Homo sapiens: one gene and its partners. The protein of the gene in region 1 interacts with the protein of each later gene in a pairwise test. Each region holds a gene or a part of one and is shown on either strand. Other genes may lie near its edges.

What was found.
Region 2: the proteins of FAM168B (region 1) and MSRB3 interact in binary tests that used the Homo sapiens proteins (3 or more experiments, as listed by UniProt).
Region 3: the proteins of FAM168B (region 1) and VGLL3 interact in binary tests that used the Homo sapiens proteins (3 or more experiments, as listed by UniProt).

What each region holds. Positions count from the first base shown.
Region 1 is NC_000002.12:131,091,418-131,095,170, forward strand, and holds the start of FAM168B (myelin-associated neurite-outgrowth inhibitor), read right to left. Parts: upstream 2,044-3,753; 5' UTR 1,797-2,043; intron 1,746-1,796; exon of another isoform or gene 1,234-1,745; intron 547-1,233; exon of another isoform or gene 392-546; intron 1-391. UniProt on the Homo sapiens protein: Inhibitor of neuronal axonal outgrowth. Acts as a negative regulator of CDC42 and STAT3 and a positive regulator of STMN2. Positive regulator of CDC27.
Region 2 is NC_000012.12:65,456,577-65,460,329, forward strand, and holds part of MSRB3 (methionine-R-sulfoxide reductase B3 isoform 2 precursor), read left to right. Parts: intron 1-3,753. UniProt on the Homo sapiens protein: Catalyzes the reduction of free and protein-bound methionine sulfoxide to methionine. Isoform 2 is essential for hearing.
Region 3 is NC_000003.12:86,970,478-86,974,230, forward strand, and holds part of VGLL3 (transcription cofactor vestigial-like protein 3), read right to left. Parts: intron 1-3,753. UniProt on the Homo sapiens protein: May act as a specific coactivator for the mammalian TEFs.

The DNA of each region.
Region 1 (3,753 bases):
GGTGGACCACCTGAGGTCAGGAGTTCAAGACCAGACTGGGCAACATGGTAAAACCCCGTCTCTACTAAAAATACAAAAAATTAGCTGGGCGCAGTGGTGTGTGCCTGTAATCCCAGCTACTCGGGAGGCTGAGACAGGAGAATCCCTTGAGCCCGGGAGGCGGAGGTTGCAGTGAGCCGAGATCACGCCATTGCACTCCAGCCTGGGCGACAGAGCGACACTCCGTCTCACAAAAAAAAAAAAGAAAAAAGAAAAGAAGTTCTCTCCCCCAAACTTTACCTTCATTACCAAGGTTTGGGTTTGCATTTTACTGGGAGGAATTCATGTATTTCTGCACAGTACAATCAGACAGACTTAACAGACTGGACACAAGGCATGAAAAAACTATTACTCTATTACGCTGGTGTACTGTTCTTTTAAAATTGTGCTCGGCCAGGCGCGGTGGCTCACGTCTGTAATCCCAGCACTTTGGAAGGTCGAGGCGGGCGGATCACGAGGTCAGGAGATTGGGACCATCCTGGCTAACACGGTGAAACCTCGTCTCTACTAAAAAAAAAAAAAAACAAATACAAAAAAATTAGCCAGGCGTGGTGGCGGGCGCCTGCAGTCCCAGCTACTTGGGAGGCTGAGGCAAAAGACTGACGTGAATCCGGGAGGCGGAGCTTGCAGTGAGCCGAGATGGCGCCACTGCACTCCAGTCTGGGAAACAGAGGGAGACTCCGTCTCAAAAAAAAAAAAAAAAGTGCTCAATTGATCCAGGAAAAGAAACTGTCTAAGACAACTTGGGTATAATTTCCCTTTAAACTACGGAACTCCACCAAAGTAAGCCTGCTTTGTAAAGACAAAGAGAAGCAAGATCTTCACAATTTCTGCAACACTAGCTTCAAAATTAGAATAGCCTTACACTGCTCAAATCTTGGCTGTCAAAGCAAAAATAACCCACTCCTTCATCTACAAGAGCTTAAAAATGTGTCCTGTTTTTGCCAAAACCAAAAAGTTTTATTTAATCTAGAATCTTTCATCCATAGTATTTGAGAAAAGTGATCTCAAATTACACAAGGATGACCTGAAAGTTTAAGGAGTGGAAACTATATAAACCTTTTTATTTATAAAGCTTCCTTGCATGCGAAAACACTGCAAAATATTCTTGTTTGACTTTAATGATTAAACATTAACTCAAACAGCCCATGAGATGCACACTTCATGTTCACATACACTATAAAACAGAAATACCCTTATTTGTGGACGTCGTAAAGGCGCACTGCACTCTTTTTTCAAAGTTAACCCAGGCTAGGCCACGAAACGTCCTTTCTGAAGGAAATCTTAAAAATCTGTAATTTAAATCGTGCCTTTTCAAGCTGGAAGGAGAACGCTCAGATTCCGCCAAGCAAAAAAATAAAAATAAAAATTATCTTTACTTCGTGGGTAGACAAAGTGAGCAGTTACACATTGGAAATGACTATTGTCACAAAGCTCTGCCCCCGGGTTTCACGCTCGCATTCCTGACGGCTGTGACCCCGACCTTTAGGAGAACGCCCCGCGCCGCGAAGCCACCTCGGCCACCTAGGCGGCAGGCCCGCGCCGCCCGGACCGCACCTGCACGCGTACGTGTCCGGCCGAGCTCCGCCCCCGGCCCCCGCCCGGCCTTGCCCGCGGCACAAAGCGCAGCCCAGGCCGGTCCAGACGCCCAGCGACCCCGAGCCGCGGGCCGACCTTGGCGCCGCCCCGAGCCGGCCGCACAAAGCGCCGCACTTCCGGCCTGGACGCGCAGTCGCCCGCTGCCCGCCCCCACTCACCGCGCCGCGGCGGCGACCTGGGCCTCAGTGACCAGCGCACGCCGGCCCGCGGCGGGCTTGGCCGTGGGGCGAAACAAGGGGGGCGTGCCGAGGAGACCTGCTACGATAAGAGGCTGACCCTCCGAGCCCCGCGTCTCCGCCGCCTCCCGGACGCCGCGCTCCCGCTCGCTCGGCTCCGCTTGGCCCGGCCCGCCTCTCCGCAGCCCGCGCTCCCCGCCGACGCTGCGCAGCCACCGGAGCCGCCGACCTCACTTCCGCCTGAGCGCGCCGCGACGGGGGCGCGCCGGGCACGTGACTGCGCAGCGTGCTCGCTCCCGCCGGCGCCCTCGAGACGCCCGGATGGACGAGCGCGAGCGCGAGCGCGGAGTGGGCCGGTCCCAGTTGGCGAAAGGGCCGGGTGTAGCTGTAGTTTTTTTATTAACTGTCTGTGAAAAAAGTATTTAATTTATATTTTGAGATAGTCCCGCGCCGCAGAAACCTTTGTGTGTGCCCAGACGCCAGGGCGCGGATCCTCAGGCCGCACCCGGGAGTCGAGCACACCCCGGGTGACCGCCACTACGGGGTCGGAGCGGGGCGGAGCTCAGCTCACAGATTCTTTGCCAGTGCGGAGGCTGCGGGCGCCCGCTCAGGAGTGCAGATTTTAGAGAATGCAAGTCAGCGTTTCAAGTGTAGAAGTGCGGGATCATTTCTATAGACAAGAGTTCAGGGAAGTGTACTAGAATGTTAGGGGGTTTTTTGGTTTTTTTTTGAGACGGAGTTTCGCTCTTGTCACCCAGGCTGGAGTACAATGGCGCGATCTTGGCTCACTGCAACCTCCGCTTCCCGGGTTCAAGCGATTCTCCTGCCTCAGCCTCCTGAGTAATTGAGATTCCAGGCGCCCGCCACCACACCTGGCTAATTTTTGTGTTAGTAGAGACGGGGGTTTCACCATGTTGGTCAGGCTAGTCTCGAACCCGTGACCTCAGGTGATCCACCCACGTTGGCCTCCCAAAGTGCTGGGATTACAAGTGTGAGCCACCGCACCCGGCCAAATGTTAGTATTTTTATGTAAGGCTTAGTGTATAGTTACAATGATTTGGTTAGTTCAGGGTGTCTCTCTGGGGGAGGTATGTTTATTATTTCGTATTAAAGAGGTGCGTGTCTTGGTGTTTGTGTTTGGGGTGTCGTCTGGTCTGAGCTAGGTACAGGACGACAAAGGAGGGAGTTATTGCAATAAAGATTAGTGATGGAAGGGAGGAGGCCTGGCTCTGGTCTTTTTTCAGTCGTTTATGAAATAAAAACAGATGGGCGCGGTGTCTCACGCCTTTAATCCCGGCACTTATAGGAGGCCGAGGCGGGCAGATCACGAGGTCAGGAGTTCAAGACCAGCCTGGCCAACATAGTGAAACCGCGTCTCTACTAAAAATACAAAAATTAGCTGCGCGTGGTGGCGCACATCTGTAACCTTAGCTGCTCTGGAGGCTGAGGCAGGAGAATCTCTTGAACCCGGGAGGCGGAGGTTGCAGTGAGCCGAGATCGGGCCACTGCACTCCAGCCTGGGCGACAGAGGAAGACTCCGTCTCAAAAAAAAAAATAAAAATAAAATATAAATGTGATAAAAGGACAAGAAGAAAACATGGGGAAATTCCTTTTTAGTATTGGAGTAAAGAAGGCTTTTCTACATTATTACTTGAAATCCAGAAGTCATGACTATGAAAAGCTTTGGTCGGCAAAAAGCACCATAAGCAAAGTCAAAAGATAAATGATTAACAAGGAAGAAATAGTCCCAACACATGTAATAGACAAAGCTAATCTCTTTAATATTCCAAAAGCTTCCAGAAGTCAACAATAAAAAGCCCTACCACCCAATAGAAAAAGGAGAGTTCACAGCAAAGGACTAAGTCTGGCTGTTAGTCATATGAAAAATATCCAATCTCACTTCTATAAAGAAAAATGCAAGTTAAAACTCTTTGAGGTA
Region 2 (3,753 bases), on another chromosome or scaffold:
ACTGTTCCTGTTCTTTCCTAACAGTTGTGTGATGAACCAACACTGACCTGCTCCCTTTTGGCTTCTTTTTCCACAGCCTTCACTTTTCATATTTAGAAAGTGTTTGACTCTTTCTTAAATAGAACTCTTAAATTTAAAGAAAAGAGGGAGAGGAATTTGTTCCGCTAAGGCATGTATGAAAATACACGCTTTGGAGTAAAGTAAGTTCTATGCAGGAGAGAATGAGGTTCCAGCACTAACGAATGGTATGTGTGCCACACCCTTGCCCTTGTGGATGGAGGAGGGGGTGTCTGCCACCTAAGCACAAAAACAGCGTACTGAATTCAAGTGGACTGGGTATCTTTCATTTCAATTTCTCTGTCTTTTATTTGTGTGTTCCATTCACGTTTATTTTCCTTTTGTTTTATAATTTTCTTTCTTTTTTTAAAATTTTCCTTTTTCTCAGGCATCTTTTTTTACCTTGACTTGATAAAATAAAAGATTTAGTAGTTCCCATGCTAGAGCAGTCACTTGTATTTTACTTCCTAGTTTCTCATTTTTAGCACTATTTTTTCATTATCTGTTTATCTTCTTTTACCTTACAGTTTTTCAGTTCATGTAGTCTCTTCTTCTGCTCAGAACTTCTCCCGTTTATTTTATTTTATTTTATTATTTTTTATTATGCTTTAAGTTCTGGGAAACATGTGCAGAACGTGCAGGTTTGTTACATAGGTATACACGTGCCATGGTGGTTTGCTGCACCCATCAACCCATCATCTGCATTAGGTATTTCTCCTAATGCTATCCCTCCCCTAGCCCCCAATCACCTGACAGGTCCTGGTGTGTGATGTTCCCCTCCCTGTGTCCATGTGTTCTCATTGTTCCACTCCCACTTATGAGTGAGAACATGTGGTGTTTGGTTTTCTGTTCCTGTGTTAGTTTGCTGAGAATGATGGTTTCCAGCTTCATCCATGTCCCTGCAAAGGACATGAACTCATCCTTTTTTATGGCTGCATAGTATTCCATGGTGTAATTGACAAATGGAATCTAATTAAACTAAAGAGCTTTTGCACAACAAAAGAAACTATCATCAGACTAAACAGGCAACCTACAGAATGAGAGAAAATTTTTGCAATCTATCCATCTGACAAATGGCTAATATCCAGAATCTACAAAGAAATTAAACAAATTTACAAGAAAAAAAAAAACAAACCCATCAAAAAGTGGGTGAAGGATATGAACAGACACTTCTCAAAAGAAGACATTTATGCAGCCAGCTTCTCCCATTTTTTAAGAGTTTTATTTTATTATTATTATTATTATTTTGCTGGTGAGATAATGTGGGAAACTATTCTGGTTTGCTCTCTTTCTAAAATTCTTGTTGTATTCTTAATTTACGTGGCTTGTCTTTTCTCTGGACTGAGTTGCCTCAATATGGTTTGTGTTATAAAAAATCTATTAGATGCTTTTAGTGTGTTGTAGACATTTTCAGTCGGATGTGTTATGTGGTGTATTTCTTTCCTTTTGGTAAAGATGGAATATCTAAATACGAAGAACCTTTAACTGCCAACTTCTACAAATGAACTGAGCCTTCATGGACAAAACCTGAATCAACTCAACCTGATCAGCAGTTTGGCAATATGGCAATATTTCATTGTTCTTTTGGTTCCTACCTAATTCTCACTTCAGTGCTTAGGATCCTTTTTTAAAAAAAATTGTGGTAGGGATGACACCATGCATACAGTGAATTAGGCCTCATATTTGCATAGGAATTGTAGACTCATTGGGAGCCAATAGCCTACCACCGCTTTACAGTACATTGTAAAGAGGTTTGTCCATGTGTCCAGTGACTTCTCAGATAATGTTTTTAGTAAAGATTTACTGAGAGAGTTCAGATTGGTTCAGTCCTATCACCACTTTTTCTAGAAGTGTTGCAGTGAGGTTCTTCTAAAAGAATTGTTGTGTAGGAAACAGCACACTGCCTAATCTTTGCATTGACAGCACTGAAAACAAGCAAGGGTCGGAGAGATTCTTCACTGTCTTCATTATAATTGTTGCTTATGGGTACCCTGTTATATTCTGATTTCTGTTGCAATTTTACTTGTTCTCTTTTGTTATTCCACCTACTGAATTGAGGAATTACATTTCAGTTATCTCTTCCAAAGAGGATCTTCATCTTAAATTTACTCGCTTTGGTGGGCACATGTATTTTCCCTCCAGCTGCAGCCATCTTGTAACAATTTTCAGCTATAAAGAATTTTCCTTGATTTAATTTATATTTTCAACTAGTGATAAAATACATTGCTTCTATTCCAGTTTCACTGACTACTATGAATAATTATTCAACAGCCTCTCCCTAATCCTCCAACCCCAGCCTGTTAAGCAACGCTTTGTCAGGAGTTTAAATTCAGTGCAAAGAAGTAAGATTTCCACAGTTTAACCTGCAGTTCAGTGAAGTAAGTTCCTTCTAGAATACTTGGGGAATTCTTCCTTCTTCAGATCAAAATCCTCCAGCTGGAGCAAATGGGAGACTAATAAATCACTTAACTTTTTGTAATATTTTTTTAAGGAAACCATCAGATCTCTGAATTTACCCACGTTGGAGTCTATTTATGAGTGCTGCTATTACTGCTTGAGTCTATGGTATAGTCCCTTAAGTTTGTTTAAGATCATTATTAATTTGTTCTAAGTCAGCCAAATCAACAGAAAGGTAAATATGCACCAATAGAAAGTATTTTTCAAAAGTTAAGCAGTTTTTGGTAAAAACCCCAAACCTTATTAATCTTCTACAGATGACAACTCACATATTGCTGATGATTAAAGATACACATGTGTTACAATAGGGCTTCAGACTCACAGCCCATCTCTCTTTTTCTTGATCTTTCAGTAAAATCATAATGCTAAACTGGTGACTTCACAGTCATTTCCTTGGCAAAAGATTAATATCACAAGCACAGAGGAAAAAAAGCCCCCACTTACACACAAGTGTCTTCAATAACAGTGGGAGAAAACAGAATACTACTGGCAAAGTAAATTGCTTTTCTTCTTAAAACTTTTCCCATCCTGCCCCATGTGTCCAAGTGTAAAAGCCCTGCTTTGAAAATGCTTCATTTCATAGATCAAACACTTAAGAGAAAATGACAATAATAAAGCCCAAACATCCTAGGAATAGCTAGGAGAAAAACCTCTAAGACAGTGGGAAATACATCAGTGCAGAAAAATGTAACTGTGTTGAATACACTATTTGTGTTTCTTATGTATACAATTGAGAACTGCAGTCAGATTTTAAGGAATTATGTTAAACTTGATGCTCAAACACTTATTTTAGGGGGTCCTTTCCCTTGGTTCTCTGCAGGTTCTTTAGCTGCCAGCTTTTCTGAGTGGGAGGCTTAGGTGATAAAGGATTGTTGTGAGAATTCAAATTTTTTCTTTTGAACAATCATCTGATGCTCTTCAGAATGAAGACCAGTATATTCAGGTACATTTACCTGTGAAATAAAGAAACACATAACCATTAAAAACAACATTCAAAATGCACACTAAAGATTCTATCCTGAAATAAATCATTAACAGCAGGTCTCAGAGATTTCTTCATCGAGCAACCAGTTTGTTTCAGTTACAACCAGGTGTACTGAGAAACCCCAACACATTGCCAGTTGGCTGGGGCCTGGGAGGCAGAGCTTGCAGGCAGCTAAAGAAACAATGCTCCTCTGGCAACTTCCATTTATCCTCCCAGCTTTCCCAAGGCTAGAAGCTGCAAAGAATGGGCTCCGT
Region 3 (3,753 bases), on another chromosome or scaffold:
CACACGCACACACACACACACACACACACACACACACACACACATATGACAGCAGCAGCATTTGAAAGACAAAAAGAGTTCCATAGGCAGAAGGTGGCAACAGAAAAATTGAGACTATTGAAATGAGGACCAAGATGGGTGTAGACTTGCTGGCCATGGTACTGAATGTAAATTCTATTCTGAGGTGGCAGGGTCTCAATGGGCTTTGAAGGGTTTTAATCTAGTAAGTGACACAGTCAAATCCGTTTGTGGAAAGATCAGTGCCTCCACCTGTAGCCTGTTGCCTACAGTGTTGTATAACTAAACAAGCACTGGGCTGGGAGACCAAGGAGCCCAGCTCTGATCCTAGGTCTTACCCTATCTCATTTTATCACCCAATATGGACCCATTGATCTTTCCATGGTTTACTTTCTTTCACTAAGAAAATGAAGTATTTGAACTCATTAATTCAAATTATCTACGGCTTAATACTGCTAACAGTCTGTGAAGTGCCCTATGGATTATTTTTATTTACAGAAGAAGACATTTTCTAAAGATGTTAGTCATGTGAGTTTAAGAGAGTATTTTTATACTGAGTTCCACATAAAAGAACCTTGCTAGATCTTTCCATTGAATGAAGGGTATGAATGGAGGATATCTTAAGAAGTATTTTAAAATAAGAATATTCAAAACTCTGACATTATCTATGTTCTCTCTATAAATATCAGGCCATAGTTTTCTTGCCTCAGGGAAAGCTTAAAAAACTTCAGTCAACCACCACATATATCATTTGGTTAACATAATTCGGCATTACTGTGGTGTGTGAACATTTCCTCTCCCCTAAAGGCTGTGGCAGCAGCACTGCAAGCTCTTCTATTCTCTCCCCTTCAGCTGGGCACCAGAGCTATGATCATGACCATTCATCCCATTCATCCTGTGGTCACACAGCTATTCACAGTCAATTCCCTCTCTCACAACATCTCCATCGATCTCAAAACACTTGGGGAAATCTAGGAAATGGTGTTCTTCAAAAGGCAAAGAATGGAACTGCACACTTTAAGTCTTCAAACAACCTCAGGAAACTTTTAATTGAATGACTTTGTTAAAATCACAATCTATCCAAAAATACCACCTATAATCAGCCTTACTGACATTGAGGTAACTATGTTTTCTTGAATTAACAATCGTCTCTTTGCAACATATGAAAAATACTATTAATGACAAGAAGGAAAGTCGTGTAAGTTGTAAGAAGAAAATTCAATTTGCCTTAGGTGATGGTCATTTGTAAAATATTTCTGTCATACCCACAATGAAAGCCATCAATGTTTAAAGCTTAAAACCCATACAGAGAGTTTAGAGAGGCTCCTTATTCTACATAGTTCATCCTTGCTACCACACATCTGCCACTTTGCTCTCACAACTCCCATCTTTGGGACCAAAGCCTTCATTCTGCTCCTAACTTCCATCTCCCGAGGGGCTAGAATCCTATTATGAAAACCGTTGAGCCCCAACCACAAGTACGTGCCAGAGATATAGAATTCCCCTTATTAAAATCCACCATTAAGATGTCAAAAGTACGGAGAGTATATACCATTTCTCTGTATGCTTTTAGTCTCATTTATATGTACATGGAGCCAATCTTATTTTATAGATGCTTATGCAGTTTGAATATGCATGCGCAAATGGGAATAATGAATCAATTATTTATCAAAAATATTATTGGTCTATTTATGAAGTACTGTACCATGATTAGTGAAGACATTATTACTGAAAGTAGAAATCTATTTTTGAAAATGCACTCCATAAAGATTGAACAAAGTTTTAAAATGCTCCAGGGAAAAATAAAATTAAAAGGAACTTAATATTTTCCCAGTCAATATGTCTCTTGAGATGAATATAAAGTTTGCAAAGATCTATGCAGCCCTTTAAAAAAAACCTGTTACATTTACAATTGAAACAATATTGAGTTGAAAATATGTTTATGAAGAAGTTTATACTTCAAAATCACTATTCGGTGTCTTGCTTGTTTAAGAAAAAAAAGTCTTGATGCAAAGGAAGAGATGATATGCTTTGTTTCATGCCTGAGAACCAGTGTGCTTATTTCATATGTATGTAAATTTTTTTCATTACATGATTCTTTGCTTATGAGTACTTAATCACAGCCACATTTGTTGGATGAAGAAGACATATGAAAAACTGCATGGGCTATTTCTATGCAATATTACATTTCAGGTGAGTGAAGAAAATACAATACTTTATGCTATTAACACTATATGGTGAGTTTGGATTCAATATTACCTGGTATACAGGTGATGTTAACCAATATTTGGATGATGTTGACACTGACAGTCTAACACATACAAAATGCCCAACTGTAATTTTGGTTCAATTTTCATTTGGGGTTAAAAATATTACTCACACATACATACACACGAGTTTATTTCTAGACAAAAAAGAAAATGATAATATTGATACATTGTCTAATAAAATCCACTAAAAGCAAACCCAGTAATCTCACTATCTGATTTAGACTGCAACATGGTATACCAGGTATTTCTTTCAATTTCACAATAGTGGGATACTTTTTACACTGATTGTAAATGTCTCTTAAAAAAAACACACACACACACACATTACCTCCAAAAAAATTTTTTAAAATCTCCGAGTAAAAAATTTAAGAAAGATAAGATTCAAAATTTAAAGAATGATACAGCTTATTAATTTTGAAAATAACAAAAACTAAATTAAAAGGAAAATGGGACAATGAAGTGTTATAGAAACTCTAAGTCATCTTAAAAATTTCCAGAAAACACATTAGAATCAATATTGATTAAAATATGATTATTAAATGCTAAAAGGTAACATTTTTACATTTTTTATTAATATCAGTTAAAAAACAAAATTCTACTCAATTCTTAAGCTAAAGTGTTCTTGCTGTAATTTCATTGCCATTCTCTTGTTGTTCTTCCCATAAAAATAAATGGCTGGGTCAGAAGTGAAATGACATGTGTTCCAGTGTTTTCTGTCATTCAGTAATTATGCATTACCATTATGTCCAAAGATTGCCTTCTAGTTACTTTCTTCTAGAGTTGCTCAAAATGGGCCTTGTGACTCTACAATGAGAGTTTCAAGGGATGATGTCAGAGGCCGATACTCCTTGGAGGCAGCAGGGTGAGATTAGTCACGCCTCACTTTTTTCCCCATGTCTTGGTCCTATGGACATTCTGTTCATTTCCAGTATCAGCCAGCTCATCAGACAGGCCCTCCTTTTCCTTTCTCCATTTGACTATTTAGGTTTCGTATTTATTTTGAGAGCTTTTTCCCATGAGAATGAATTGCCCAAGCAGACCCTATGTACATCAATGAGCCAACAGATGATTTTCTTTGCAACTGCAATATCAGTAAGATTAGCATTCTGTATGGTTTTAAGTCAGTGATTTACTCTGCTATGGCTTGACATAGCTCCTGCCCTTTTCTACAGATACACACAGACTCATTTCTGTAAAGATCAGTGCATAGGCATATTTGAAACCAATGTTTAGCGCTGTGCTAAATTAATCATATAGATTATTTTTAAAATCTTTATAATAACTCTAGGAGAAGGGTATCAAGAAACATATATTTGTATGGAGATAAGGGACCAATCATATTCATTAGGTTTGTTATTTTTTTTTTTTTTTAGATAGAGTCTCACTCTGTCACACAGGCTGGAGTACAATGGCATAATCTCGACTCACTGCAACCTCCACCTCCCGGGTTCAAGCGATTCTCCTG